2 separate regions of the Homo sapiens genome follow, and region 1 is linked to region 2. The links come from fine-mapping of genetic effects on gene expression. A gene starts in region 2. The other region holds a variant in brackets. All regions are shown on one strand. Distances are between the middles of the regions. Region 1 overlaps USP47 (ubiquitin specific peptidase 47). Region 2 holds the start of USP47 (ubiquitin specific peptidase 47).

The links. PIP is the estimated chance that this variant, and not a neighbour inherited with it, causes the effect.
Region 1: its variant is fine-mapped to the expression of USP47 in whole blood (INTERVAL, PIP 0.94).

Annotation. Positions count from the first base shown.
Region 1 is chr11:11,907,524-11,923,514 of GRCh38, forward strand. USP47 (ubiquitin specific peptidase 47) reads left to right here. Exons shown (of 28, transcript NM_001282659.2): 9 at 12,633-12,728; 10 at 12,819-12,971; 11 at 15,201-15,368. Among named protein-coding and RNA genes, the nearest start is that of USP47, 74 kb to the left of the region's middle. The variant C/A (reference allele first, on the strand shown) is at 9,546.
Region 2 is chr11:11,832,409-11,848,399 of GRCh38, forward strand. USP47 (ubiquitin specific peptidase 47) reads left to right here and starts at 9,564. Exons shown (of 28, transcript NM_001282659.2): 1 at 9,564-9,816. The coding sequence starts at 9,778. It overlaps LOC107984311 (a long non-coding RNA gene), which reads right to left and starts at 9,433. Exons shown (of 4, transcript XR_001748134.3): 1 at 8,767-9,433; 2 at 7,111-7,149. RefSeq lists enhancers at 8,640-9,505, 9,288-9,457, 9,506-10,369, 9,668-9,807.

The sequences.
Region 1 (15,991 bases), 75 kb after region 2:
CTCTTCTTAGTCCACAAATATCATCATACAGCATCTAAAATTGGTTATATGTCACTGCTTGCCATTTTGTATTTTGTTAACTGTGTATGTTTCAAAAAGAATTTGACATGCTTTAAAAAGAATTGGAATTATGGATTGCAAAAATCTGGTTAAAAGAGGTACCATAAAATCACTCATTGAGATTATATAAAATTGGCCTGAATTTTAACTGGACTCTCTTAAAATTATTATTCTACCTTTTTTAGTGGACTGGTATTTTTGTCTTATTTAATATATTAGATATAGACGTAGGCTGGGCATAGTGGCTCACACCTGTAATCCCAGCACTTTAGAAAGCCGAGGCGGGCAGATCACTTGAGGACAGGAGTTCGAGACCAGTCTGACAAACATGATGAAACCTCGTCTCTACTAAAAATTAGCTGGGCATTGTGGTGCATGCCTGTATTCCCAGCTACTCGGGAGGCAGAGGCAGGAGAATTGCTTGAACCCAGGAGGCAGAGGCTGCAATGAGCTGAGATCGCACCACTGCACTCCAGCCTGGGCAACTGAGCATGACTCTGTCTCAAAAAAAACAAAAAAAGATATAGATGTAGACATATACACTAGCACGTGCATGTGCACGCACATGTACACACTGATGGTTATATATTCTGTTTATTGTATGTTTTGTTTAGTGTGCCACAATATTATGGGTTTAATTTCAGATAATTAAGAGTGAGGTCTTTTAAAAATTGAAGGGTTTTTCTTTTTTTTCTCTCTCTCTTTTAAAAAATTTATTAAATATTTATTTCTTTTTTTAGAGATGGGGTCTCGCTGTGTTGACCAGGCTGGTCTCAAACTCCTGGCCTCTAGCAATCCTCCTGTCTCAGCCTCTCAAAGTGCTGGGATTTCAGGCATGAGCTACCACGCCCAGCCAGGGTTTTTCTTTTTTAAACCTTCATCTAAAATGTCCAATTTCTGGAGTTGTTTTATCTTTATGGTCAAATAAATTAACTTGCAAATAATAGGTAGGATTAAAATAGGACTGAAAGTAGCACTCATCTAACTTATTATAATATCCACAATCAATTTTTATGGGTTTTTTTTTAGTATGATAACAGGTTATTTTTATAATGAGTGCTGGGAGACTTCTGCAGTTTAAAAAATAAGCTCCCGTAAAGTAGGGAGGTCAAAAAAAGCCTTTTATTATAATAATTTCTTTTTTCAATAGATTTTTAGTTATTGTAACTGATATTTGTTAGATTTCTGATCTTCATTTTACTCATCCAAGTACGGAATCAATATTGAAAGGCTCTTCTGCCATTCTGTATATCTCAGATTGAGTTCTGTTCAATACTAGTCTGTAAAAGGATTTAGTAGATATTTTGGGGAAGGTGTCCTTGATTAAATAGATTTGGGAAACTATAACAATAATCCTCTTTGGAAATATCACAGTGCATATTATATTTTAAATGCCCCAGTGATTCCTGTAGTTGAGAAGTTTGTTTAAATGTGTTTAACCTAGCATTTTCTTTCTCTGTGGGACATCTGTTAATATCTCAAGAGACATTAGGATTCTGAGGAACATAATATGGGAAGCTCTACATTAGATTAAGGTGATTTAAGAATGTCACTACTTTGTTTATATTTGTGTCCTTGGGATGTTGAGAGGGAGTGAGAATACTAAAATATGTGTTATAATTTCCTGTTGTTTTACATATTTTTTATTAATCCTGAAAAATTAATATCAGCTGAAGAATTACTTGTAGTAATCTTTAAATAATTTTGCTCTTAATGACTTATTAGATAGTTAGAACCTTCTATGTTCACTGACTAGATCAAAGTAACTTTGACTATGCTTATTGCCAACCCCATGTGAGAATGTATTAAATAAGGAGATAGTTCTAAGTATATTCTAGTAATACATAGAAATTAGAAATATTAACTTTTTGTTTGTTAATTATGAAAGCATAATTTATAAATTAAAGAAAAACAATGTAGCCTCATGTTTGACATTATCTAAGGAAGTGCTTTTTTATTTAACAGTAAAATTTTAGACACTGTCTTTTTATTGGTGTATTTTGTCATACAACATTTATTTAGGGCCTACTCTATGGCAGACACTGTTCTAGGCCATTTTCTTTTAGGATACTTTTATTCTATTGTTCATTACGTACATTTAAATACCTGTTTATTATGACAAAAACGTGTTCAAAGTTTGATCAGGGTTTAGCTGCATAATTTCATACAGTGCCTTTGGAGAAATAAGATTATATAAAAGACTTGTTTCCTAAGTAAACATAGTTTAATGATTGTTTTAAAGTTTTGAATGGAAAATTGTGAAATTAGTAAGTGTGAAATCAAAAGCATTTCAACTATTTACACAAGTTTATATTATAAGTCTTACCCTGACATAACAGGTGGTTTGGACATTCTTACATGGGTGACTCAGCCACAGAACTCATTTGGGTGAAGCAGTGGTCCAAATTTGTCCAAATATGTAAGCATCAGTTAAAGAAAAATCTCTTCCACAGACTCTACCCTCATTTTTCCAGGAATGTGTATGGTTGGACATAGTGGGAACAAGTTTAAAAAGTGGGGACTTCTGCTTTCAGGAAGATGGAGTAGATGTACATTGCCCTATTCCTCCCACTAAAACAACTGAAAACCTTGAGCATTATATGTAAAATAAACATAAGAAGACTGAAAGGTGGAGAGAAGGCATACACACTAGGGACCTCAGCACCCAAGGAATAACACGGTGGTGAGTTCCATGGGTTTTCTTTTTGCCTAATATATCCCAGGCTTGGAACTGAAGAAGCTGGCAGCCTGGAAACAGCAATGGGTACAGACTGAAAAACCCTGTTCTCTTTAACTGAAGGACGAGGAAAAAGACAGCCTAGCAAGCCAGAAAACTTTTAGACCATAACTGCTGTGCTCTAACCAAACACCACAGAAAGAAAAGGCCTTACATCAACTTGTGCCTGCCAGTGCTGAGTGGGGAGCCTAGATTCTCTGTTCCTTCACCACCTCCCAGGGGTAAAGAGGCGAGCCCCTCCTGCTTGTGTCAGTGTTGGGGTGTAGTACTGAGATACTCCTGCCCTTTACAGCCAAGGTTATATCAGCAGAGGCCTACTGAATACCCAGAATTCCTTTCCCTGCGCAGCACTAACAAGGAGCTTCCTCCATTCAGATGTCCACATAGGCCAAGTGGGAAACCTGGACTTCTAATGCCATCTGGCACTAATATGGCAGAGCCCTTTCCCCAGATGGTACAGTGTCAAAGGAGGCATTTAAACTAGAAGGTTTAAATATGGTCCAGAATCTCATAACACCCCAAATGTCCAGGTTTCAATTAAAAAATCACAAATCTCAGTTTGAGTTAAAAAAGAAAACCAGTAGACATAAACACTGAAATGACAAAGATGTTAGAATTATTTGATAAATATTTTAAAGCAGCCATCATAGAAACACTTCAGTGAGCAGTCCTAAGCACACTGAAAACAATGAAAATTTTAGGGAATCAGTTAGAGATACAAAGAAATGAAAATTTGGAACTGAAAACTGCAATAAGCAAAATTAAAAACCCAGTGGATAGGCTGAACAGCTGAATGAAAGAGACAGTAGGTCGAATCTGTGAACTTGAAGATAGAATGATAGATATTACCCAGTCTAAACAGCAGAGAGAAGATAGACTGAAAAAAATATATATCCTCAAGGACTTATGGGACTATAACAAAAGGTTTAGCACTGTGTCATTGGAATACTGGAAGGAGAGCAAAGGTGTAACACTTGTGTCATTAAAGTCCTGAAAGGAGATTAATAAGGAAAAAGAAGGCAGGCACAAAGAAATAATGGATGAAAATGTTCCAAATTTAGCAAAAGGCATAAACCTACAGATCTGAGTAGCTGAGCAAACCCCAAACACAATAAGCCAAAATAAATCAGGAATGGCCATATTAGTGTCAGATAAAGAAGACTTTAGAGCAAAGAAAATTACCACAGACAGAGAGGGCTGTTACATTGTAATAAAAGTGTCAAACAACCGAGAAGACAACAATCCTAAATGTGTATGCAGAAAATAACACAGCTGCCAAAATACATGAAGGAAAAACTGTCATAACTAAAAGGAAAAAGACAAATCTACAATTACAGTTGCAGACTTCAGCACGCCTCCCTCTCTTACTGATAGGTAGAACAACTAGACAGAAATAGCAAAGAGGTAGAACTCAGCAACACCATCAACCAACAGATCTAATGAACATTGCTAAAGTGCTTCACCCAACAGCAGCAGAATACACATCCTTTTCAAGTATCCATTAAATATATACGAGGATAGACCATATGCTCTGGACCATAAGACCTCAAAAAATTTAAAATCATGGAATGTGTGATTTTTTTCAACAACAGTGGAATCAGATTAGCAGACAGGAATATCACAAAACACTTGGGAAATAACACTTCTAAATGATCCATGGGTCAAAGAGGAAGTCTCAAGGGAAATTTTAAAAATATTTTGAACTTAATGAAAAGTAAAACATAACGAATTTTTTTGAGGCACAACTAAAGCAATACCGAGAGGGAAACTCACAGTATTAAATGCTTATACTAAAAGACAGGAAAAGGGCCAAATCAGAAATCTAAGCTTCCACCTAACCTGAAAAAAGAAGAGCAAAAGAAACCCAAAGCAAGCGGAAGGAAGGACATAATAAAGAAAAGCCGAGAAATCAGTAACATTGAACATGAGAAAACAGTAGAGGAAGTCAACAAAACAAAGGGCTGGCTCTTTGAAAAGACAATAAAATTGACAAATAGCAAGACTGACAGAGAAAAAGGGAAGGCAAAAATTTCCAGTATCAGGAATGAAAAGGATATAACTATAGATCTTGCAGATATCAAAGGGATCACAACAAACAACTCTGCACATATAAATTTGACAACTTAGATAAAACGAACCAATTCTTTGAAAAGAACTCAATAGGAATTAGATAATTTGAATAGTCCTGTAACTGTTAAGGTAATTACATTTATAATTTAAAACCTCTTGAAAGGAAATCTCCAAATCTTGATTGTTTCACTGGATACTTGTATCAAACATTCGAAGAACAGTGAACACCAGGTCTGTACAATTTCTTTTCAAAAAAAAAGAAAGGAAGAGGAGGAAACCCATAGTCCTGTGACACTATTCTTACCTGATATTAAACCAAGACAGTTCTTAAAAAAAACAGTATCCCTTATATGTGTAGTTGGTAAAATTCTTTCCAAAATATTAGCAAATGGAATTAAGCAATTTATAAAAAGAATTATATATTGTGACTAGGATTGATTTCCGGGATTCAAGACTGGTCAGTATTTTAAAAATCAATGAGTATAATCTTCCATATTAACGAGCCAAAAAAGAAAATTCATATGATCATATCGATTTAGAAAAGGTGCTTAATAAAATTCAAAATTCACTTATAATAACTCAGATTACTAGGAATAGAGGGAAATTTCCTCAACTTGATTAAAAAACGTATCTAAAATATCTATAGCTAACATCATACTTCATTGTGAGAGACTGCTTTCTTCCTAGGGAATGGCACGCTTGTCTAGGCAAGGATGTCTGCTCCTACCACTCCTTTTCAGCATAGTCCTAGAAGTCCTAGCCAACACAGTAAGGTAAGAAGAGGAAATGAAAAGCACTACTAAAGGAAGAAATAAAATTGTCTGTATTTTTAGGTGATATGATTATCTATGTAGAAAATCCCTTGTACAAAAAAAAAAAAAAAAAAACAACACCTGAACTAATACGTGAGTTTAGCAAGGTAGCAGGATAAAAATAACATAAAAAATAAATTGTATTTCAAGATACTAACAATGAACATGTAGAAAGTGAAGTTTAAAATACAATACCATTTATAATTTTGCAAAAAGAAAAAAGATGGAAATCCAACAAAAAATGTACTGGACCTATGTGTTCAAAACTACAAAACTTTGAAAAGATTATGTTAAATAAGCTAGGACCAGAAAGACAGATATTACATGTTCTCATTTACATGTGGGAACTAAAAATAAAGCTGATCTCATGAAGGTAGAGAGTAGAATGGTAGTTACCAGAGGCTGGGAACAGTGTGTTTGAGAGAGGCGGGGATAAAGACAGGTTGGTTAATAGGTACAAACATACAGTTAGATAGAATCAGTAAGTTCTAGTGTTTGAGAGCAGATTAGAGTGACTATAGTTAACAATATATTGTGTATTTCAAAATAGCTAGAATAGAAGATTTTAAATGTTCCCAATACAAAGAAATGGTAAATGTTCAAGGTGATGGATATCCTAAATAGCTTGACTTGATTCTATGCATGTATCAAGTATCACATGTACTTCATAAATATTTACAGTATTATGTGTCAAAAAAACTTTGAAAAGAATAAATGGAGAAACATACTGTACTTATTAATTGGAAGATTCAATATAGTAAAGATAATTACATAGTCTTAATGCAGTTCCTGTCAAAGTCCAGCAAGATTTTTTGAGGACATATACAAGCTTATTCCAAAATGTATATGGAAGCCTAAGAAACTAGAATAGCTAAGAGTTTTCAAAAATAAAAATAAAGTGGAAGTTACCAGTCTACATGATTTGGAATGGAATACTACTTAGCCAAAAAGACTTATTATATGGCTATAGTAATCAAGACTATGTGATATTGGTAGAGGGGTAGGCAAATAGATCCGTGGAGTAGAATAGAAAACCCAGAAATAGATCCACACAAATATGCCTAATTATTGACTGAGACACAAAAGCAAGTCAATGGAGGAAAAATGGTGTTTCCAACAAATGGTGATGGAACAACTGGACATCCATATCACAAAAATGAACCTTGACTTAAATGACTTTATACAAAAATTAACTCAAAATGGGTCATAAACTTAAATGTAAAATGTAAGACTATGTAACTTTTAGAAAAAACATAGGAGAAAGTCTTCCAGATCTGGGCTAAGCAAAGAGTTTTTAGATTTGCTACCAAAAGTACAGTCTACAAAAGGGACAATTAGCAAACATTAAAATTAAAAATATTTACTCTCTGAAAGCCCATATGATAAAGAGAATCTCCAGACATATTTGCAAGCTGTCTATCTGACAAAGGACTCATATCTAGAATATATAAAGTACTCTCAAGACATCAGTTTAGAAAAATTCATCTAGACAATTGGCAAAAGACATAACATTTCATTAAAGAGGATATACAAATGTCAAATACAGAAAAGATACTCAACATTGCTGGCTATTAGGGAAATGCAAATTCAAACCATAATGAATATATTATTCTTTACCTGCCAGATGGCTACAAATAATGACAGCATGGAAATCTGGTGACTATGTGGAGAAACTGTATCACACATACACTGCTGGTGGGAATGTGAAATGTTATGGGTAGTTTCTTATAAAATGACACGTGCAGTTACCATAAACTCTAGCAATTGAACTATTGGTCATTTATCCCAGAAAAATTGAAATTTATGTTTACATGAAAACCTGTGCACAAATATTTATTCCATCTTTGTTTTTAATATTCAAAACTGGAATCAGCCCATATCTGCTTCAGTAAGTGAATGGTTTAACAAACTGTGGTTCATACAAACCATGAAATAGTACTTAGCAATAAAAAGGAACAAACTATTAATAAACACAAAAACTTGAAAGAATATCCAGGGAATTATTCCGAGTGAAAAAAGCCAATCTCAAAAGGTTATTACATACTTTATGATTCCATTTATGTAATACTTTTGATATGACAACCTTTTAGAACTGTGGGACAGATTAACCATTACCAGGTCTTACGGATTTGGTGGGAGCAGGGAGAGGAGAAGCAGGTGGTTGTGGCTATAAGAGGGTGGCACAAGTTATCCTTGCATAGGAACTGTTCAGTCTTTTGACGGGTGTTGAATATATGAACCTCTACAGGTGATAGAATTGTATGGAACTTAATAGACACATATACACAGGCAAATGAGTGCACTAAAGCTGGGAAAATCTGAATTAGATAGGTGTATGAATGCCAATATCATGGTTATGATATGCCATAGTTTTGCAAAATGTTTCCAGTAAACTGGGGGAAGTGTACAAGAGGTCTCTGTATGTTATTTCTTACGATTGCATATGAATTTACAATTATCTCAAAAGTTTCAATGAAAAAAAAAGTAGACAGCTTAGGTAAAAGTATATAGGCCTTTTCCTAGTTAAAAAGTAGTAATGTTAAAGTATATATTCGGGAAAGACAGTTGAATATATTTTTAAGGAAAACATCATGTTCCTGTATATCAGTAGTACCAAAATTGCTTAGTACATCAAAATCAGGAAATAATTCTCAGTGGTGGATCTACTTTCTTTTTTTGTTCATGTAAAAATTGAAGTATGGTGTTTTAACACTCATTTCTCTATTCAAAATTAAGTAGATTTTAATTGATGAATAATTCATATGTACACATAAATGGTTAAAAAAAGGATTTATAGGCAATACCATTCCTTGCATATACCTTTTGATTGCACTGTGCCTGGATTATTTGCATTAGCTCTAAAATTGGAATAACCCGTATTGTTTTTGATTGGAGAACTAAGGATGTAAGAATTCTTTATATTCTATCCTGAATTCTGAAAATTATAGTGTAAAAGGATGTGCAGGCTGGGCATGGTGGCTCACGCCTGTAATCCTAGCACTTCGGGAGGTCAAGGCAGAGGATTGCCTGAGCTTAGGAGTTTGAGACCAGCCTGGGCAACGTGGTGAGATCCTGTCTCAAATAAGTAAATAAAAAGATGTGCAGAATTACATTTTGCATAATATATGGGGAGCAGTAAGATCTAGAATATGAAACTGTTGTCACTCTGGAATTATCAACATGGTACTCTGACTGAATTAAATATTCTCAAATGAGCAGAACAAAACCTGGTATCCAAAAACTTAAGCAAAGAAATAGATTTAAAAAACAAAAACAATGCTGTAAGAAATGAAGTGGGAATTCATCAAATTCAGGAAAGAAACAGAAGAAAAAGACAAAAATATCTTAGAAGTGAAGAATAAATTAAAAAATGCTCAAGAGAAAATAGAAAGAAGATCTAATGAAGGACATTGAATGGAAATGAGATTTTTGTAAAAGTAAAAAGGATCTCAGAAAAAAAAAATTGAAAGAGAAGACCAGCAAAGGGTGTCCAACATAATTGGAGTCTGTGAAGAAGAAAAATAAAACAGTGGACCAGAACTAATAGATAAACTGTAATTCAGAGAAAGTTTCTGGGAATAAGGGAAATGTCAAGTCTACCTTTTGAAGGACCTGGAATGATAAACTCTGAGATGTATTTTAGTAAACTATTAAAGATGAATTGAGGCCAGTCACAGTGGCTCATGCCTGTAATTCCAGCATTTTGAGAGGCTGAGGCAGGAGGATCCCTTGAACCCAGGAGTTTGAGACCAGTTTGGGCAACATATTGAGACCATGTCTCTACAAAAAAATAAAAAATCAGTTATCAGTTGTGGTGGAATGTGCCTGTGGTCCTAACTATTCAGGAGGCTGAGGTAAGAGAATTG[C/A]TTGAGCCAGGGATTTCAAAGCTGCAGTGAGCCAGCACACCACTGCATTCCAGCCTGGATGACAGAGCAAGACCTCATCTGAAAAAAAAGATGAATTGGGTTGGCATCATATTTCAGAAGAACAACATGCAAATCCTGCCAACAGAGTAGCAATTTCCAGAAATTCAAGAAAGTACCAGCCAAGGATTTGATAGCCAGGCAAGTGTTTCTTAATTATGACAGCTATAAAAAGACAAGTTTGAATATTCAGGAACTCATTGGGTATTATATCCATGAGCCATTGAGGAGTTCATTAGAGGATGAGCTTAACCCAACCAAGAGATCACGGGCAGCTTCGGCAAAAGAACTGTGAGCACTTACTATATTAAATTAAGGCCTAAATACAAGGGTGGGAACACGGGAACAGCAGAGTAGTATGTAATGTTACATGTTAGACAAAGTACAAATAATACCACTTTTTAGAAGGGGGAGAGAAAGGGAGAGCAGAATAAGATCACAGACTGTTGTGTGGGTGGGGAATAAAGGAGACCATTTAAAACTGGCAGACACTGAAAGCTTAAGAAAGAGTAAACAGGGTGGGGGTGGGTGGGAAAAAAAGAGGTCCAAGGACACTAACAAAACTATAAATGCAAAAGTAACTGTAGAATAAAATTACAAACCTTGCTAAATACCAAAAGAAAATGTAAAAAATAACAAAGGAACACAATAAATATTACCTAACACACACAGTAATTACACAGTAGTGACTGAGATAGGACCAAGCATACCAGTCATATCAAATATGAGTGGGCTTAAATTGCCTATTAAAAAGATTTTCAAGTTGGTTCAGAAAGCAAACATTAAAATTTGATTTAGGCAGGAATCTGTAAGTGGATGTTAAAATCAAGGGTGGAAGATTTGGTAAGGCTCAGGATTTTTGCATGGTCTCCAAGTATCTCCTTACAGATTGCTTATTAGCCGCGAGAGTAAAAATAATAACTATATGGTAGAGAGACTGGACAATACCTTGACCAGATAATTAAAGCTAATATCACCAAAGAGAAAGTTAGGTACATCATGGCCTGTGACTATGCTACCCTTAGAAGGGCACATCTTTGCTAATGTCATAGTAGCCTAGCAAGGAATGTATAAATCTAATAATGAAGAACATCAGACAAACCCAAATTGCAGAACATTTTATAAAATAAGTGGCCTCTGTTCTTCAAAAAATATCAGTGTTATGAAAGAAAGGCAAACTCTGGAATGCCTCGAGATTAAAGGAATCTCAAGAGACCAAACAAAATCTGTGGCCTTGAGACAGATTGTGTACTAGATGGAGAGAAATACATTGTTAAGGTAATTGACAGAATTGGAATATGGCTGATGAAAGTACTTTATCAGTATTAAATTTTCCAGAGTTTGATTACTGTTTGTGTAAGAATATCTTTATTCTTAAAAAGTCATATTGAAGTTAAGAGGCAAAGCATGATGAGGTGTGAACCTACTCTCAAATGGCTAAAACAAAGATACATAATAATGTTGGGTTGGGCGAGGGAAAGCAAAATTGGCAAAAATGTTTAAAAGTTGATGAATATGAGTAAAGTATTTGAGAGTTCTCTGTTCTTTAAACTTTTCTCCAAGTTTTAATTTTTTTTAAAGATCTCTAGGTATTAACTATAAGCCGGAGACCAATACACACACACCAAAGTAGAATTTGAGTTACATAATTATCTCACTCTCCCTCTCCCCCCATCCTTTTTTGAATATTGAGTTTTTACCAGTTTAAATTACCACTATTTGGAAAGCCTGACATTTAGTATCAGTCTGTGTTAAGCTATAGATGTAATTTCTTTAAAGCTTGTTTTTCTGTTGTTTTTTATAGAACTTTCCTTTTTCCCCCAAAAATATGCCTGAGAGGGAAAAAAAATTTTTTTCTAAATGTGTCATTTGACCACCAATAAAATGCATGGTCATGTGGAAAAAAACCCAGCCGTTTGGTTTCTTCACTTGTTTCCTTGTGTTCTGAGAACAAAATAGGGGATCAGATGGGTTTAGACACCTTTGAATATCTATGTCTTTTCTTATTTTTATCTTGTTCCAAAGTGAGCTCTATCAAACAATATGTGGACAGTAGTTTTCTAAGCTTTGCCAGATATTTTGCAACTACGACCATTAAGCTCCTTTATCTTTTGAGGAACAGCTTGTCCTATATCAAAAGAAAAATATTTGAAGATACTGTCTTAATGATTCCATTTCTTTTAGTTTATGTGTAATATTATCAGTAGTTCTGCTTAGCCCATGTGTGAAGAAAAGAGAGAACATCAGATGAAATTTGAGATTATGCGTCCAATCTTATATGCTATATTAACTAATTTTTTAATCGTGAAAAACCAATTACTAAAATAAAAATTAACTTTATGCCACTGATTCTTTAACAGTATTTATATGAAGTTTCTTACTTCTGTTGTAATGCTGTATGGAGAAAAGAGAACCACGTGGTTCTACCAAATTAACAATCCAGGATCCTCATTATACATTTCCAAATGGAACAGTATCTCACACACACACAGAAGGTTGCACAGTGTTTTTCAATCTTTATAACTAGTGCAGTGGCAGATTACTGACTGATCCTAACTATGGCGATTAAGGATGCTTACATGATTTTTAAGTGTATGAAAAGTGTGAATTCTTTAGAGAACATTGATATTTACTGTACAGTTTTAAATGCTTCCTTTTATAAGAAGATTGATGCATGCAACTGCTTTTCTTAGAAGTGTGGAATTACTTTTTATCTAAGGACTGAGGATATTTTTAGAGATTATTTAGCCAAACACTGCAATGTAAAGTCAATGAAAATCAGGTTGAAATGACTGTGATACTGCAATACTAAGAAAGGCAAATCTTGTGTAGAATGAAATAATTTTTTTTGCTTAATTTTTATAGTGATAATATTATTTTACTGTTGATAATTTTCCTTGGTACATTTTGAGTTCCTAAATTTCTAACCATTCTACTTATAACTTTTAGTAATTACAGTCTTTTTTATTCAGGATTTTGTCATTAATATAATATTTTAAGTAATTATAAAACAAATTTTTTTCTAACTAGGAAGAAGCATTGCATGCATTTATTCAGCCAGAGATTCTGGATGGCCCAAATCAGTATTTTTGTGAACGTTGTAAGAAGAAGTGTGATGCACGGAAGGTAAATGCCATGTAGAGATTAATACTTAGGAATCTGAGATAATATTCCATATTCAATAGACTCTCCCCCTTTTTGTTGTTTGTTTTTTAGGGCCTTCGGTTTTTGCATTTTCCTTATCTGCTGACCTTACAGCTGAAAAGATTCGATTTTGATTATACAACCATGCATAGGATTAAACTGAATGATCGAATGACATTTCCCGAGGAACTAGATATGAGTACTTTTATTGATGTTGAAGATGAGGTAAATATTTGTTATTTTAAAGTATTTTTCATTAATCCACATTAGTCAGTCATGGTTTTGAAAGAGCTGTTTGAGGTAATAACACTGATGTCATTTGGACTGTCTTCTTGATGGAAACTTTTTCTTTCTTATTTTCTAATGTGGAATTCAATAAAATGATTTACCTTTGTATAAGCTTTTCCTGACTGCATAAATTATATTTTAAATATTCTTGTTTGATCAGAGTAACTTATGATACTCTTTGAAAAGACAATAAGGAACTCAGCTTTGGAATTATTTCTTGAAGTTGAGTGATAATCTTATATTTTATAATTTCGTCGTTATTGAAACCAGCCTGAAGGTAAGCCATACTCATGTTTCTGATCTATAATAAATGCAGACAATGCCTATGATGGAATGAATGAACCAACTGAATAGCATGGGCTTAATTTCTTGTACTTACCTACTATTTTGTATTTACTATTTGTCTGTTTTCCTTTTTTAGTTTTTTTAATTTGAAACTTTATTTAAATAATTTAAGCATGGGATTTGAAGTGACACATGATGTAATGCTTATCAATTTCTTCCCACACTTTGGCCTGCCAAAATTCTCTGGTTCTTCTATCCTTATTCAATGAAAGACTTACAATATTCCACTCTATTATTTTGGAAACTCTTCTGATTTTATTATGTGGAATACTTATAATCACTTAGGCTAATTATTTCAAAGTGATTTATTCTCAGAATTACCCTGAAGCGTTTTTTTTTTGTTTTGTTTTGTTTTGTTTTACTGGAACTGATTACTATAGTTATAAAAAATGCCTTTTCCCAGGAGTTCAAAAATAATTTTAAACATTCACTAAGTTTTATTTAGTACTATTGAGTACTATGAGGCAGTTTGGTGTAGAAGAGCACATGTTTTAGGCATAGCTAGATGTGGATTCAAATTCTTGTCCTGCTACTTGCTAGCCTCTTGACCTTGGATAATTCATAAAACCTTTTGAGCCTCATTTCCAGATGCCATAGATGAAGTAGCTGTTCATTGAATGGTAACTATGATCAATAACATTTTGAAAAGTTTAATTTAAAATAATGTCTCAGACAGTTGCGCTTAAGCTAGGAAATCTACCCAAAGTGTGCCAGACTTTGAGAGGAGACATAATCTTTGTAGGATTTCTACTCAAATAGAGATCAGTAGTAGATTGGTCTTCTGAATATGCCTAATATATTTCTCATAAAGGAAAATTTTTTCCAAAGAAGGAAAACTTATATATGAAGCTTAGTAGAAACTTCCTAGAGAATTCTAGGTTTAGTTCTTGGGACAAGAAATGTTTTGGCTCAGCTGAAGAAGTTTCAGGAATTATATCTCTTTGGACTTAGATCTATAGCTGGATTTCATCTCCATTTATCCTTGAACCTAACCTTCTTGAGAGATGAAGACTGTATATTAGATGTAGTACCTACAACAAGAGTTCCTGGCAAAAAGTTTGTGCTTATTGTATATTGCTTGGTTTCACTCAAGAACTTCTATGCAATGCCTTATACATTTCAAAAGCCTGCATCTTAGAAAATTCTCAAATTATTTAAATAAAAACATTTTTAGAGATGTATATAAAACGTTAAAGGGGGAAAGGATTGTTTGGGGGTTTCTAACAAAGAGAATTCTTCAAATTAAATTTGTGTGAATGTGGTTTAAAACCATAAAGTAGAAAAGTATAATGTGCTGTAACCATTATATTTCTACTTCCTGTAAAAAGACTATCAAGTTCTTAAGGATGAATACAATGTCTTGTTTCTCTTTCTAATTATCTGTAATACCTAACGCACTGATAAACCGAGTTGGACTTTTTGTTCAAGAAAAGAAATTATATTCTTTCCTGATTTGAGAACACCAGAAGCTCATTTTGGAGCTCAGCTTCTCTGATTTTGTGGATTTTGCTAAAAGAAATGATAATTTCAACCATTATGTTGTAACAGTAAACATAAATGAGGTTTAATAGAATTCTGAATCACTAATTTGTTGTATTAGAATTTTAAGGACATGATAGAAATGCTTTTAAAATACACTGTTGCTTGTTTAATTTTACTTAAGGTCTCAATTTTTAAGAGAAAATAAATGTACTCAAAGTAAAATATTTTTACTAATATGTTAAATTGTGTGAAAATATTAGCAGTATATAGGTACAAAGTTTTGTTGAACATATTTTCTCTGTATATGGTTTATAACTAAGATAATTATGTCTTATTAAGAAATCTCCTCAGACTGAAAGTTGCACTGACAGTGGAGCAGAAAATGAAGGTAGTTGTCACAGTGATCAGATGAGCAACGATTTCTCCAATGATGATGGTGTTGATGAAGGAATCTGTCTTGAAACCAATAGTGGAACTGAAAAGATCTCAAAATCTGGACTTGAAAAGGTACCTTTTATAGTTTGCATTTTTTAGTTGAAAGTGAGAATAATCTCTGACTTCCTATATAATTCTATAGCTGTTGTGACTGATAAAGTTATCTTTAAAAGAAACTTAATTTTTGAAAGTTAAGACTTCTCAAATATAGTTTTTTTGTACATATATATATATATATATATATATATATATATATATATATATATGACTATAATTAAACTTCAGGAAAAACTGCTTACAGGTAAGAACATTAATTTTTGGGAGACCATACTTTAAACTGTCTAAGCAAGCTGGATGGTACAGAAACGATGCCTAGTAGTCAAGAAACCAAGATTCTATTACCACCTCTGCCTTTAAGGTTGCAGCAAGTGTCTATAAATTTTGTCTGAGTTTTCCTATATAGAAAAGTAAAATGTTGGATTAGTCATTGATTTTTAAAAGTCTGGCCATGAAACACTTTATGAGACAATTAATAATAGATCTGATCTTTCTGAGTAGGGAAATGCCAAAGCCCCCTAGTCTTTCTTCCCTGTCCTGCGATAGTCCTCAAGACACTTTGAAAAATGGTATAGTTCTATGGATTATCATTTGAAAACCACAGAATTGGATAATCTCTGGGATAGGATCTTGCCCCT
Region 2 (15,991 bases):
AAAATTAGCCATTTGGCATATTTGTTGTGAATATTTTTCCAGATGATATTTTGTCTTTTGACTTTATTTATATTAATCTTTGCTATACATGAGTTAAAATTTTTTAATTACCATCTTTCCCTTTACACTTCTGGCTTTTATTTTGTTTCAAATCAATATTATTATAAAATATTCACCTTTGTATACATTATTTCTAATTCTCACAATGCTATCAAGTAATTATTACAACTCAGTCTTCACATTCTCAAGGAATATTGAGATCTCTTCAAATGACAAATTTATAAATATTACTCTACTTCAAAGACATTATGAAATCATTTCAGAAAGTTTAACACTGTGACTCCAACTTTATTTTGCTAGATTCCTTCCTATTCTTGCACCTTAAAATTTAGGCACTTGCAGACCGCAAAGAAAGTTGAGTGAATTGTGGTCAATTTATCTTTGGTTGCCTTAGGCGCTGATATTTGCCTCTCCTCCTTCAATATGTTTACCAAGGTATTTTCTGTTGATGTGAGCCTCTTTTTAATACTGTTGAATGCACTGACCTATTAACCTTTTCTTTATGAATTTCTTCAGCTTAGAAAGAGGCAAGCAAGCACTTCTGTGGCAATGATTTTTATCTTTATAAAATGTCAATAGAAAAATGCTACTTTAGGTCACAGAACCAATCTTTTTTTTGAGGTCACAGTGGGTTAAGAGCCCCACAAATGTCCTCACTCGCTTACCTCATGAAAATATTTATACAAATGTTCCTAGGTTTCTCCCAGATTACATTTTCCTGAGCATCATTTTTTCTATTCTCATCTTCACACCAAAAGTTAGTCATCTTTTCAATATTCAGTGGTTTTTAACTTAATTGATGAGCTTTTTTTCCTTAGTGGATGCACTCATTTAAATAGTTTCCCAAATTACTTTTTCTTGTTTCCTTATTGATGGTGTCTTTTCCATCATAAATATAAGCCATTGACTAATTTTACATCCCACTCTTTAACTTAGACAGAAGGCCTATTTTGTGGCTAAGATCCATCACTTTAATAATTTCTTCAATCTCATTACTAATAATTGAGTTTCTTTTCAGAGCCATTTTCCACAAAGAAAATTCATGGAAGAACTACATAAGTGGAGAAGAGTAGGCAGAAATGAGACTACGTCAAAGTGTAGTTGCCGTATGATTAACAAGACTTACTCACTAGCTAAGTGACTAGTTTATTTATTCAACATGAATTTAAAAGCACCTACTATATGCCAGGTACTGTGAGGGTTGTGCATTCCCTCATGAAACTCAGTCTATTGCTAGGATAATTATAGCCAGCATATATTGATTGCTTAGTATTTGTCAGGTAGTGTATGTTGAGTGCTTTAAACAGTTTATATGCATTTCCTCACTTGTAAGATGGGGATATTAGAAGTACTTATGCATAAAGTTGTTGAGAGAACTGAATAAAAAATATGTGCAAAGGGGCTGGGCGCAGTGGTTCACACCTGTAATCCCAGCACTTTGGGAGACCAAGGCAGGCGGATCACGAGATCAGGAGCTCGAGACCAGCCTGATCAACATGGTAAAACCCTGTCTCTACTAAAAATACAAAAATTAGCCGGACATGGTGGCGCGTGCCTGTAATCCCAGCTACTCAGGAGGCTGAGGCAGGAGAATCGCTTGAACCTGGGAGGCGGAGGTTGCAGTGAGCCGAGATTGTGCCACTGCACTACAGCCTGGCCAAAAGGAGACTGTCGCAGACAAAAAAAAAAAAAAAAGCAAAGGATCTAGAGCAGGGCTCAATCTATATATTCAACCAATTTTTTTTTTTTTTTTTGAGACAGGGTCTCTCTCGTCACCCAGGCTGGAGTCCAGTTGTGTGATCTCGGCTCACTTCAGCCTCGACCTCCCAGGCTCAAGGGATCCTCCCACTTCAGCTTCCTGTGTAGCTGAGACTACAGGGGTGCACCACACCCGGCTAATTTTTTATTTTTTTGTAGAGATGGGGTCTCCCGATGTGGCCTAGGCTTGTCTTGAACTCCTGGGCTCAAGTGATCCTCTTGCGGCAGCTTCCCAAAGTGCTGGGATTACAGGCGTTAGCCACTATGCCTGTCTATTCAACCAATCTCTTTTTTTTTTGAGAGTTTCACTCTTTTGCCCAGGCTGGAGTGCAATGGTGCAGTCTCAGCACACTGCAGCTCACTCAGCCCCGCCCCAGGTTCAAATGATTTTCCTATTTCAGCCTCCTGAGTAGCTGGTATCATAGGCGCCCGTAACCATGTCCGGCTAATTTTTTTTTTTTTTTAGTAGAGATGGGGTTTCACAATGTTGGCCAGGCTGGTCTTGAACTCCTGACCTCAGGTGATCCACCTGCCTTGGCCCCCTAAAGTGCTAGGATTACAGGCGTGAGCCACCGCACCCGGCCTCAACCAATCTTAACTGCTGTAGTTTTGTGATTATTATTACTTTCTTTACTAGTTACTATAACAACCTTGTGAAGAGAGGCTGTTATCATCCCCATTTTACAGATAAGAAAACTGAAGCTTGGTGGATTTAAGAGATCTACCCAAGGCATGTCACACAGTTAATAATAATAGAGGTAGGATTCAAATTCAAATAATGTATTTTCAGCTTACTCTTTCAACCACTTAGCTCTTTGGTCTTCTGTACTCTGGCTAACGTATAAAGTTCAAATTTCCTTTCTATCACAATTACGCTACATGTCATGGACTTTTCCAGTCAACATGGCAAATGTTAAACTGATAAATGCCAAGGGTCTACTTTATTGCCCCCATTTTATAGTTGAGAAAATGGAGGTTCAGACAGGTCTTATATGGAGGAAGTGGCAGAGTTTGGATTTCAAAACAGGTAAATCTGGCTCCAAAGCCACATTACACTGACTAAAGATTTTCTCCTTAACCTTATTAAAACATAGTCATGGTGAAATTTTCCTTTCATTTTTATAATACACATTTAACCTTCTATTTTCACTGGTTCTTAAATTGTATAATGTGACTTTGACTACATGCTTAGACTTGTGCAGTGAAGAGTCTTGAAATATAAAAGAAAGAAAATAAAATCTTAAGTATTGCCATGAACATTTAAAAATATACCTTTTATTTTGGAATAATTTTATGCTTTCAAGGAAGTTACAAAGATAGGACAAAGAGTCTGTATATACCTCCTCCACTTTCCCCCACTGCTTATATCTTGCATTACCACATTACACTTATAAAAACTAAGAAACTATCAGCAATGAACAAGTGGAATTTGAAATATAAAACACATTACCATTTACATTAGAACCCCCCAAAATCATACTTACATATAAATCTAACCAAATATGGATGATATATATATATATATATATATATATATATATATATATATATATATGGAAAGTGACAAAACTCTAATGAAAGCTATCAAAGAACTAAATAAAGGAAGAGATATTCCATGTTCATGGATAGGAAGACTCAAAATTGTCAAGATGTCAGTTTTTCTCAACTTGATCTACAGATTCAGTGCAATCTCAATCACAATTCTGGCAAGTTATTTTGAGGATATTGACAAACTGATTCTGAAGTTTATATAGGGAGGCAAAAGACCCAGAATAGCCAACTCAATATTGAAGAAGAACAAAGTCAAAGGGCTGACTTCCAGACTTACTTTAAAGCTACAGTAGTCAAGACAGTGTGGCATTGGTGAAAGAATAGACAAACAGATTAATGGAACATAATAGAGAGCCCAGAAATAGACCCACGTAAATATAGGCAACTAATCTTTGACAAAGGAGCAAAGGCAATATAATGGAGAAAAAAGTCTTTTCAACAAATGGTGCTGGAACAATTTTATGTTCACATGCAAAGAAACAAATCTAGCCACGGACCTTATACTGTTCACAAAAATGAACTCAAAATGGATCATAGACCTAAATGTAAACTTTAAAACTATAACACTCCTAGATGATAACAAAGGAGAAAACCTAGATGACTTTGCGTTTGGTGATAACTTTTCAGATACACCACCACAGACATGATCCATGAAATAAGTAATTGATAAGCTGGGCTTTGTTAAAATTAAAAATTTCTGCTGTGTGACAGACAATGTCAAGAGAATGAGAAGACGAGGCACCGATAGGGAGAAAATGTTTACAAATGACACATCTGATAAAGAACTGTTATCCAAAATATACCAAGAACTATTAAAAGTCAATAATAAGAAAATGAACAACCCAATTAAAAAAATGGGCAAAAGACCCGAACAGACACCTTACCAAAGAAGATAAGTATATGAAAAGATGTTCAACACCATATGTCATTAGGGAATTGCAAATTAAAACAAGGAGAGATACCACTATACATGTATTAGAATGGTCAAAATCAAAACTCTGATGATGTCAAATACTGGCAAAGATGTGATGGAGTAACGGGAACTCTCATTCATGGATGGTGGGAATGAAAAATGGCACAACCACTTTGGAATGTTTAGTTTTGTAAAACTATGCAGTTTTGTTTTTTTTTTTACAAAACTATGTAAAAAACAATGTAAACAAACTATGTAAAAAAACTATGTAAAACATGCAGTTTTTTTGTTTTTGTTTTTTTTACAAAACTAAAAATACCCTTATTGTGCAATCTATCAGTCATGCTCTTTGGTACTTACCAAAATGAATTGAAAATTTACACATACACAAAAATGTGCATATAGATGGTTGTATTTACTTTATTGGTAATTGCCAAAACTTGGAAGCAACTAAGATGTCTTTCAGTAGGTGAATGGATAAATGAACTGTGGTACATCCAGATGATCGAATATTATTCAGTGCTAAAAGGAAATGAACTATCAAGCCATGAAAAAACATGGAGGAAACTTAAATGCATATTACTAGAAGAAATAGCCAATTTGAAAAGCCCACATACCATGATTCCAACACTCTGGAAAAGGTAAACCTATGAAGACAGTAAAAAGATCAGTGAATGCCAGGAGTTAGGAGAGACAGAGGGATTAATAGGCAGAACACAGCAGATTTTGAGGGCGGTGAAACTATTCTGTATTATACTGCAATGGTGGATATATATCATTATATATTTATCAAAACACATGGAATGTACAACACCAAGAACGAACCCTAATGTAAACTATGGACTTTGGATGATAATGATATATCAATGTAGGTTCATCAGTTGTAACAAATGTACCACTGTGGTGGCAGCTGTCAATAGTGGAGAGGGTGTGTGTGTAGGGACAGTGGGTGTATGAGAACTCTCTGTGCTTTCAGCTCAATTTTGCTGTAAACCTAAAATTGCTCTAAAAAATAAAGTTTAATTACAATTTCTTCTCATTTACTATTTAAATATAGTCTTTGCTGTGAATAATAAAAACAAAGGCTGGGCACGGTGGCTTATGCCTGTAATCCCAGCACTTTGGGAGGTCGAGCGGGTGGATCACCTGAGGTCAGGAGTTCGAGACCAGCCTGGCCAACATGGTGAAACCCTGTCTTTACTAAAAACAAAAATCTGCTGGGCGTGGTGGTATGCACCCGTAATCCCAGCTACTCAGGAGGCTGAGGCAGGAGAATCGCTTCAACCCAGGAGGCAGAGGTTGCAGTGAGCCAAGATCACACCACTGCACTCCAGCCTGGGCAACAAGAGCAAAACTCCATCTCAATAATAATAATAATAATAATAATAAAGTGTATTAAATTTTTTAAAAACATTTTAAAAACTAAGAAATGAATATTAGTACATAAATATTAACCAAATACACATTTTATTTGAGTTTTACCATTTTTTTTTGTTAACGGCTTCTTCCTGTTTCAGGATCCAATTCAGAGTGCCACATTGCATTTACTTGTCATATTTCCTCAGTTTCCTCTGGTCTATGACAGTGTCTCAGTTTTTCATTGTTTTTCATGACCTTAACAGTCTTGAGGAATACTGACCAGGCATCCTGTAGAATGTCCTCCAAACTGGGTTTGTGTGATTTTTTTTCATACTTTGACTGGGGTTATACTATGAACATTTTCATTTGAAAAGGAAAAGGAAAATATTCCCAAAGAAATTATAAGAAAAATCATCAGCCTCTGACCTACACCAGTCTTGGCATTTGGTTTTTGTTTTTAATTCAACACCAATTTATTAATGACCTACTATGTGCTAGGCATTGTTCTAGACATTGAGGATGCATTATGGACAACCAGTTTAGATTGGATTATCATAAAAGGCCTTTTCGAAGATTTAACATTTGAGAAGCCCAAATGACAAGATTGAACTAGATAAGAGAAAAGATCTACGGGAAGAATATTTCAGGGAAAGGAAATAACTACTACAAAGGCTTTGGGGCAGAGACAAACTTTATGTGTTTAAAAAGCTCAATAAAGGCAAAGTGGCTGGGTCATTGGGCGTAAGAGGAAGAGTGGCAGATGACTGGAGCAAGACAGATGGGTTTGATTACATTGGATCTCACAGGCTATAGCAAAGAATATGAATTTTATTCTAAGAGGGATGAGATGTCTTTGGAAGATTTGGAAGGGATATGACATATTTTTGAAAGATCACTCTGGTTGCTCTATGGAATATGGATTGTTGAGGGATAAGATTAGAAACAGGAACCCAGTTAGGAGGTAACTGCAGTAGTACAGGCAAAAGAATAAAGTAATTGGAGTGGGATGTGCAGTAGTAGATAGAAGGAAAAGTGGATGGATTTGAGATGTGTTTCAGAGGTGGAAGCAACAGCCCATATGAAGGGATTGAATGTAAGATGAAGAGTGTCAGGTTTTTGGTTTGATAAACTGAATTGATGACAGTGTAATTTATCAAGGTGGAGAAGAACTGATAGAGGATATGTTGCAGGAGGTAGGGGAGGCTTGGAAATCAAATGTTCTGTTCAGGTCAAGTTTAAATTTGGGAGGTATTGAGCCATTAAAAAGGTAGATATATGAGTTTACAGCCTATAGGAGAGGTGAGGACAAGGGACGTAACATTTACATATAAAGTAAATAAACACATATCCATGTAATCTCAGTAATAATATATTAGGAAGAGTAGCCATATATTTGTATTTGTCCATTTATTCATTAATCAATTCATGAATCCACATACTTATTCCACAAATATTCATTGTATACTTACCATCTTATCAGGCTCTCCTGCAATAGTCAAGCCAGTGGCCTATAAAGAAAAGAGTGTGCAATCAGAAAAGGGGGATTGTAGGAAGAAAATGTTAGACTTTCTTTTTATATTTATTTTAATCTAAAAACGCAAAATTAAATCTTACTTATATTGAATATATAAACACCAGCATCTCACTACTCCTGAGTGAGAAGTGTGAGTTCTGCAATGTAGAGAATTCAGAGATTCCTTCATTTTCTTTTAGTATGTTGTCACTTATTCCAGTTTATGTGGGCTGGGTTAAGTAGATTTATCAATTACATTCTTATTTCATTATATCAACCTTTACTAAAATGAAAGTGACTAAAAAGGATTTCTGGAAAGACAACATGAGTTTGAAATAATATTGCAAGCATAAGCAAAAAAGATGACAGAGATGACATTTTTACTTCTAGGGTGAGCACTACAGCACTGGCCAGCACTACAGAAGACACCTTACTAAGTCATGGGATGACATTTTGAAAATAAAAGTTTGGAAATATTTCCATCATGTGATTTTGATGCAAAAATGATATATGTGAGCCACCCAAGTCTGGGACTATGGTGAAGCAAATGGTTTTCAAGGTGAAAACCGTTCACCTTGGGCACAAAATTTAAGGGGGGGGTGCCAAAAATTCAATAATCAAGACAACTAATCTTAATACAATATTTTAAAAAGTCAAAATTTATCTTAATCAATCCATGATAATCAAAATATCAAAACCTTAAAGACAAGATCTATAACTCCCAAAACTCATACATGAATACTTAAAACTTGAAGATAGAAATTTTCAACTTCTTAAAAATCTTCTAAGCAATTTATTCCAAAGAGCTTTGAACCCATTTGTAAAAATATAAAAATGCAACATCTTCTGGTTGACATCAGGAAAGATGGAACACTACTAGCTGAATTTCAATAAAAACCTTTGCATGGTTGTTGGATGGAATGGATAAAAATGAAACTTTTTTCATATCAGTTTTTTTTTTTAAATCGTTCTAAACATGCATTAGGAAGAGTGGCCAAAGATGTACTTCCTCCTTTAGGATCTACATCTTTGTGAGTTACCTTTTTTTCAGCTTATGACAGCCATTAAAACCAAGTACAAAAATAACCTGACGTTCAATCAGATATTTTAATAACTATTTCACGAAGTATTAAAGATTTTTAAAACTAACGAAACCTAGTCAATCATATTGATTTCCTTAAATATTTTTAGTGAGAATAACAAAGATTTTTATACCATTAATATGGAAAATAACTAAGTTATTTTAAATGTTTATGTCATCTTTGTCTTAGCCTTTTTACATTTTACAAATGTTTTATAATTCTGCACACAGCAGGACACGTATAAAACTTATATAAGTATATGGATTTTTTTTTGGTAACGGGATTACAATAAAAAAAAGTTTGGAGAACACAAGTGCAGGCAGTTAATGCTGTGGGTGTTAGGAACATGACAAGATTATATTATCTCAGCATGCTGTAAGATCACTGTATCCATAAAAGTCTTCATGAAGGAGCCCCGCCGAGTCTCCATAATGGAAGCAGGATTTGGAGAAATGACTTCTGCAAACTTTGTTTAGTATAACACAAAGCACCATGCTTACTACTAGAGAAGATTAAAATTCTCTAAAAACCTTGTTAACGGAGATCACAGGTTGAAGCATACTGCAGCTCTACTCTTGGAAGGCTAGCTCAGTCTCAGACTTGGCCCTGATGGAGAAGGAAGTTCCCTGGAAGAGGGCAGGGGAGCGCCTCTCCAATGTAGTTGCGGGGGGCGGGCGGTGAGGACACCGCTTCATAAGGGAAGGGGTGGCTGCCTCCCCAAGCAGGGGGTGGCCCCTGAGGTCCCTCCAGCTGGGGGCCCTTGAGAGGGAGGGTGGGGAGAGGGGAAAAGAACGTCAGGAGAGTGAACGGGAGCAAATAAAACGCTGTCCATTCTGACTGGAAGGGCCAGAGCCGTGTCTAAGGGCGGGGGCCGGGAGGTGGCCCGCGGTGGTGTCTCTACCAGGACGAGGCCTGGGGTATCTGAAGAGGGGATGACGTCCAGGCGCTTTGCTAAAGGGAAGCCAGAAGGGTATGAGTTGCTAGGGTCAGAGATGGGGCTTTCGGCTCGAGTCTTTCCCTGCAGGGCAGAGAGTCCGAAGAGCCCGAGAAGGCAGGGAGGACAGTGGGCCTGGTCCTTCCCCGGCCGGCAGAGGGAGTCCCGAGATGGAACGTCCAGCTCTCCTCTAACGAAAAGCGTTTGCATGGCTGTCTCGCCAATTCTGTACCTCCCGGGGCTGAGGAAGAGCCGAGGTGACTAGAAGCTAGCGACAAGTGCCGGCCACCTCCGACGCCAGGCGCCGGGCTTGGAGCCCGACGGGCCGAATTCTCGCGAGAGCGGCCGCCGCCATTTTTCCATTGATTGCAGCGGGCTGGGGGAGGGGCCGACGACGAAGGCGGCTGTGGTAGCGGCGGCGGCGGCGGCGGAGCCCTGGGTCGGTGTCTGCGCGCTGGTGTCTGAGGCCCAGGCTGAGGCCTCCGCTATTGCTGGAGCGCAGGCGGCGGAGAGGATGACTGCCGCTGCCATTCTCTCTTGAGCTAGCGAGCCGCCGCCACCCTCCACCCTCCCCCGGCAGGGCGGAGAGGAGCGGCCGGAGTCAGCGATGGTGCCCGGCGAGGAGAACCAACTGGTCCCGAAAGAGGTGAGGGGCCCCAGAGGAGGTTAGGCCTTAGGCCTGCGGCCGCTCGAGGCAACACAGGCCCGGGCCGGGGTTCGGCTGCGGGCCCGGCCGGGGTGCAGGCTCGGCTGTGGGGGAATGAGGAGGCGTGAGGCAGTCGGGGGTGGACGGTGGGTGCGGCGAGCAGTTGGGAGACCCGCTGGCTCTAGGGGCCGGGGAGCGGACCTCCCGCCTCGGGTTTTATGGGGCTGGACGAATAAAGGAGCGGACGGGAAAGAATCAGGTTCTGCTCTAGGGGAGAAGGTGGCCTTTTAAGTTCTTGTTTAACGTGTGGAGCCGGGAGAGATCATTTCAAAGAAAACATTCTGGAACAGTTGCCTATGGGCACGGCAGGGTGACGGTGCTGCTTCTGGGTTTGACAGTGGCAGCGTATAGCTTTCAGCGCTTGTGAAATCTACACCCAAGTGAGATCTGTGGGAGGGCAGACTTAACTGTTACGACTTTTTTCAACTCCTGTTACTTGGTAGTACTATTGGCCTGCCTAAATGGGGCCTACCGAAGATCGTGGAAAAGTAGTACATGGGACATTAATGTAAAGGAAGGAGATAGGAGAACATTACCACATGGAGAGCTGAACTCTTTTTTTTTTTTTTTTTTTTTGAGGTTGGGTTGTGTATGCCAATTTGAGTGACTTCTTAAATTCTTAAAAGCAAGTGATACGAGAAGCCTTGACTACTTGGCTTCTCTTGAATAGTAGTAGAAGATTTAGGGTAGAATCCAGCACTGGCCAGCGAATTTCAACGTATTAATAGTATCTCTGTTGGCTTTATAAATATCTTCGGCGTATTCAAATGTGTATTTTTAACTGGCTGATCATCAGGCTAATGCTTTGGATTTTTATTTCTCATATACCTTAAATAGAGACAAGTGTTGGATTGAAATTAACTGTGTGCGATCTTGAAATTAATGAGTGATCATTACAGATTCTTAAATTTTTTTGTGCCTGTTTTACTTGTTTTGTAGCAATTCTTTGTTACTTAAGCAAGCTCTGACAGTATGCAAGGGTGATATTATTGGAGTTATGTACCTGTATGATACAAGTATTTTCCCAGCTTTGTCAGAAGGGCAGTGATAGTTGTTTTGCAAGGACGATTTTTGTAAAAGGCAGAGAGTTATGTGTCAGTATTTGTTCATCAAGCGTCACCAACTCTGTGCAAAGCAGATAAACAGATGAGTTAATCAGAATTCTTGCCTTGGGAACTTTCTGAGCTACTAAGAAAGGGAACACTAGTGTTTGTTGAACTCCAATTAGGGACTAGGTACTTTACCACGTAAGTAATTCTTATGCAAGGAAGGAAGTGATAGGTGCTGTAAGAAAGGTATAAATGTGTATTTCATTTTAGAGCTTCATATTGCTGGTTTTCATTTTTATAAAAAACAAAATTCTTTCTTAATTTTTTGACCATTAGAAAAATATCATATAGGTGGAACTCTGCTTTAAGAAAACCCAACATTAGATTTATTTCCCTAATAACTTGATTTATAGAAAACATGATATGATAATAGATACCGAGCTTTGCAGAAACATCTGTTGTGTAAAAAGTGATAACAGCAACGGAAGTTTAAAGATTAAATGCCTGTCCTTTTAAGATTAATTCCCTTCCCTGAGGCTTTAAATTCATCACAACTTATGTTTTTTCCCTTTCTTCTTTTTATGGACCATATGCCTTTATTGTCTATTCCTTAGTCTCATCTTCAGTCTTCTTTTTCCCTGGTTCCTTTCATGATTCCTGGAAGCATGATCTGTGGTTCTTACCTTTTATAGCTAGCCAACTAGCTTTTTCTTCTTTGATGGCCACACTCATTCTTTATTAAAGTGATTGCCTCCAGTTCCATATTTGCTTCTGGATTACTGGAAACTTTTTCTGAAAATCACCAGTTATCTCTTAAATGACCAAATTCTTTGACTTTTTTTTTCTTGCCTCTTCTGCTGTTCGAATTCTCTGCAGGATCTGATAGTTTTTTTAAAAAAACAATTTCTTGATTTTAGTGATACTCCACTTTTCTGGTCATTTTCCCACCTGTTTGTCCTATCTGCCCACTCATTTAGTCAAGGCCTTTCTCTTCTTTTTTGTATTCTTAATTGGCACTTTTGTGTGATCCTTGAAGCTCCGGGACAGGTCCTTTTAAACAGTAGTAGAATCATACAGTGCTAGAGCTAAGAGAAAGCATAATCATCATCTAAGTTACCCCTCCACTTTACAGTTAAGGGAGTTAGGCCCAGAAGATTGAAAGTGACTTGTTCAGGGTCAAATAATGAGTAAATGGCAGACCTAGTGCTAGAACTCACTTCCTTTGCTACTATTCCCTTGATTATACCCTATTTTACAGAGCCCTACATGTAATTTAGAGGCTCTGTAAGAATAGTTTGTAACTCTCTAAGTACATATATATGTGAAAATAAATGGCAAATTAAAAAATTTCATGCATTTATTTTAATGGCTTATTATCAATAATCTAAAGATTTTTTTTTTTTGAGGGCCTTTGTATAGGGAACCTCTGACCCCTGCTAGATTTAGATCTTGGTTAGATGTGGGCATGTGTGCGTGCGTGTGTTGGAGTGTATAGTTGTTCAGTGAATAATATATTTTGGTCCCTGAAACTCAAGGACAAATGTACCTTTAGAGGACTCTTGAAGAAGACAGCTTAGTGTAGTACAGGCATTGGCAAACCACGGCCTGTGGTCCAGATCAGTTCACAGCCTGGTTTTGTATGGCCTGTGAGTTAAGAATGAGTTTTACATTTTCGAATTGTTGAAGAAAAAAAGTCAAAAGAATTATAATAGTCTGTGACACATGAAAATAATGTGTAATTCAAATTTTAGTCTTGAAACAGCTATGCCATTTATTTAGTATTTTGTATGGCTACAACAGCAGAGATGAGTAGTTGCTACAGAGACTCTATGCAGGATAAATTTGAAATTACTTAGCTTGGTATTCAAGGCCCAGTACCATTGATTCTGGCCACAACCTGTCCTTCCAGCTTATCTCTTCTCCCATGAAACAGGTTTTTAATGTAGTCAAACAGGTTTCTCTCTAACTTGCATTTCACTTCTGTTTGTGCTGCCCCCTCCTTCCTGTTCAAAACCTTCATACACATTTTTCCATAAGTACCTCATATCTCATTTATGCTAAATAGCCTTTTCTGACCATTTTAACCTTAGAGATTTCTCCCTCTTAGAAGACCTTTATATAGGAATAGAATTCATTTGGCAATTACTAGATGGTGCTTGGCGACATCTATTATGATCTGAAACTGTAATCTACATTTTATATATTATTTGTTGTGAATTCCTTGACAGCAAAGACTTGGTATGTTTCTCTGTCTTTGCTTTTTGTTTTTGTAGGTTTTGTACTATAGGTTTAAGACAGTGTCTTTCCTGGAGCAGATATTCAGTAAATATTCGTTGATGTGGTGACAGAGTTGTAAGTAAATTTAGCATTCTAACCAATTATCCTGTCCTTGGAGGTTTTCCACAGCATCATTGGCAAGCTATTTGCCAACTTTTGCTTTAATACATACTTCTATGACTAATCTTTGATAAAATCTTTGTCTTAGAAGAGATCTGTTATTTTTAAGTTTTTGAGTTGAGAGAAGTCTAGATCTCTATAGCTGCCATCTTTTGATAGTTGCCTTACAGAAATGTTAAAGCATTTCCCATAGGATAGTTTTTCTCATCATTGAAGATGGGAGAGGGTAGCCTGAGAACTGACCTTTTCTGTTCTGAGTCTGAGCTTCCTCAGTTCTTTAACTGTTTCTTAGTTCCTCTCTTTTGGACATAATCTGGGGTTTTTAGTATTCCTCCTAAATTGTTGTACCCAGAAAGAGCAAAGAGAGTGGTATCTCTTCATTGTGGTGAAGAACAGAGCTTTTCACCCGTTTCATTCTGCCGTATGTCTTTGAATTGTAGTATATTGATTTCTGCTTTGAGGTCTCTTTTAATAGCATCCCAATTTTAATTATTGTTTGGTTGCTATTTTGTTATTCTGTTTTCTTATAAGGATGTGTGTCATTAATATTCATTGAGTACTCACTGTGCATATTACTGTATTCTGCCAAATAGGAAAAACTTAGAATAGAAAAATTTGTTCTTCTCTCAAGTGTCTTATAGAATGATCAAGGATAAGGTGCATATTTACTGATGCTTTAAAAATAATACTTAAACTGCAGTACTTAAAGTAGTGCTCATGGACTCTAAATCCAGAGAAAATGGAAAAAATGAAGGAAAAAGAGTAGAAATGTAAATTCTTTATCTCTGGGTTTTTTTCTCCTGTCTTTCATGCAATCACTACTTCTGTCTGGAACTGGTTTTGGCATCTAATGATGATGATGATAGTAATAACCAGTATTTATTGAGCATTTATTTATATACCAGATACTGTTGGTTGTGCTTTGTATTAACTCATTTGAGCTTCACAGCAACCTCAGAGTACATAAGACACATTGATAGCAAAAACAACTTATTTTTATTTCTATTGTCTGACTTCTTATAAAATCCATTCATCAGTATCTATTATGGAACATGTCAAATGCATATTCTTTTAATTTTATTTCTCCTAATTAAATTACCTGAGGAAATGTGCTGCAATTGTCATTCTTGATTTTAGTGATTCTTTTAAAATGAGGCTTTTTCTTAAATTTCAGATGTTGACTCTCTCTTACCAGTAAGAGACAAGTTTGTCAAGTTATACCCGCCAGCGTTTTAAACAAATTGGAGTGTTTAATAAAAGTCAGTATTTTAGATATCATTGGAAATGCTCATTTAATGAATGAAAGCAAAAGCTGAATGCAGAATTGTATATGATTCTAATTTTGTCCAGGAAAAAATGAACAATTTAGGGTTAAATGCGTTGAAAGATTAGAAGGAATACACTAAAATATTAAGAGTTGCTATTTCTGAATTTCTGGATTATTGGGATATATATTTAGACTTTCATATTTAAAAATGAGCATGTACATTATTTTCAAAAACAGAAATTGAGATGATCTGATTGTAGTTTTGGGGGTATTTACATAGTGTTTTTTTTTTTTGTGCTCACAGTTTTCCTATTTCCCCTCTCCTCTTACTCTGTATATTTGTCTTGAGTAATCGGATCCACTTGTATAGCTTCAACCTTTGATTGTGATTTACACATTTATATCTCCAGCCCTGACCCCTTCTAGATTCAGATTTCCACTGTTCTGGATATCTGTACTTGGTTGTACTCTAGGACCCACAAATTAAATATAGGTAATATCGAACTTATTTCTCCTTCCCTTCTCACAACCCAATTCTTGGTGTTCTCCTGTTTCAGTTAGTGTTATCGCCATCTATTTATATGCTTAAGTTAGAACAGTTTTTGACTCCTCTCTTTTCCTTTTTCTCACATATAGTTCACCACTTAGAAAATGTCTCTGTATCCTTATCTTTCTCTCCATGGCTCTGCCTTTGTCTAATTATTGTTATTTTCTCCAATGTGTAGCCTTTCTAATTGGTCAGTCTGCTTCCAAGGCCTTTCCTTTCTTAACCATCCTCCCCACAACTGCCAGGGTTACTTTCTAAAACAGATGAGATTAAGATTTACCTGTTTTAAAGTTTATAATTATTACCCTCTGATTGCAATTTGAATGATAGGTACTATTTGTAAACAGTATGTGCTAGACACTATGCTAACCAGTTCACTTACATTATCTCATTTGACAGTATGACAGTATTAGCTATTATTCTTCATTATCCATTTTACACATGAAGAAACTAGGCTTAAAGATGCTAAGTAACTTGCTCAAAGTTACATAGCTATTTGATTCTAAATCAAGGTAGCTTTAACCAGTAGGAAAGTCCTTGATAATATGGATTCAGTTGATTTTTTAAATTTAATTTTTATCAAAGTTATGTTTAATACATGCATATATTTATAAGAGTTAAATAGCTCTGCAGAACTATAGTCACTTGTCACTTAATGATGAGGACCTATTCTGAGAAATGTATCATTAGACATCATTTGAACATGATACAGTGTGCTTGCACAAACCTAGATGGTTTAGCCTGCTACACACCTAGGCTATATGGCATTGCCTGTTGCTCCTAGGCTACAGCATGTTACTGTACTGAATACTGTAGGCAGTTGTAATACATCATAAGTCTTTGTGTGTTCAAACA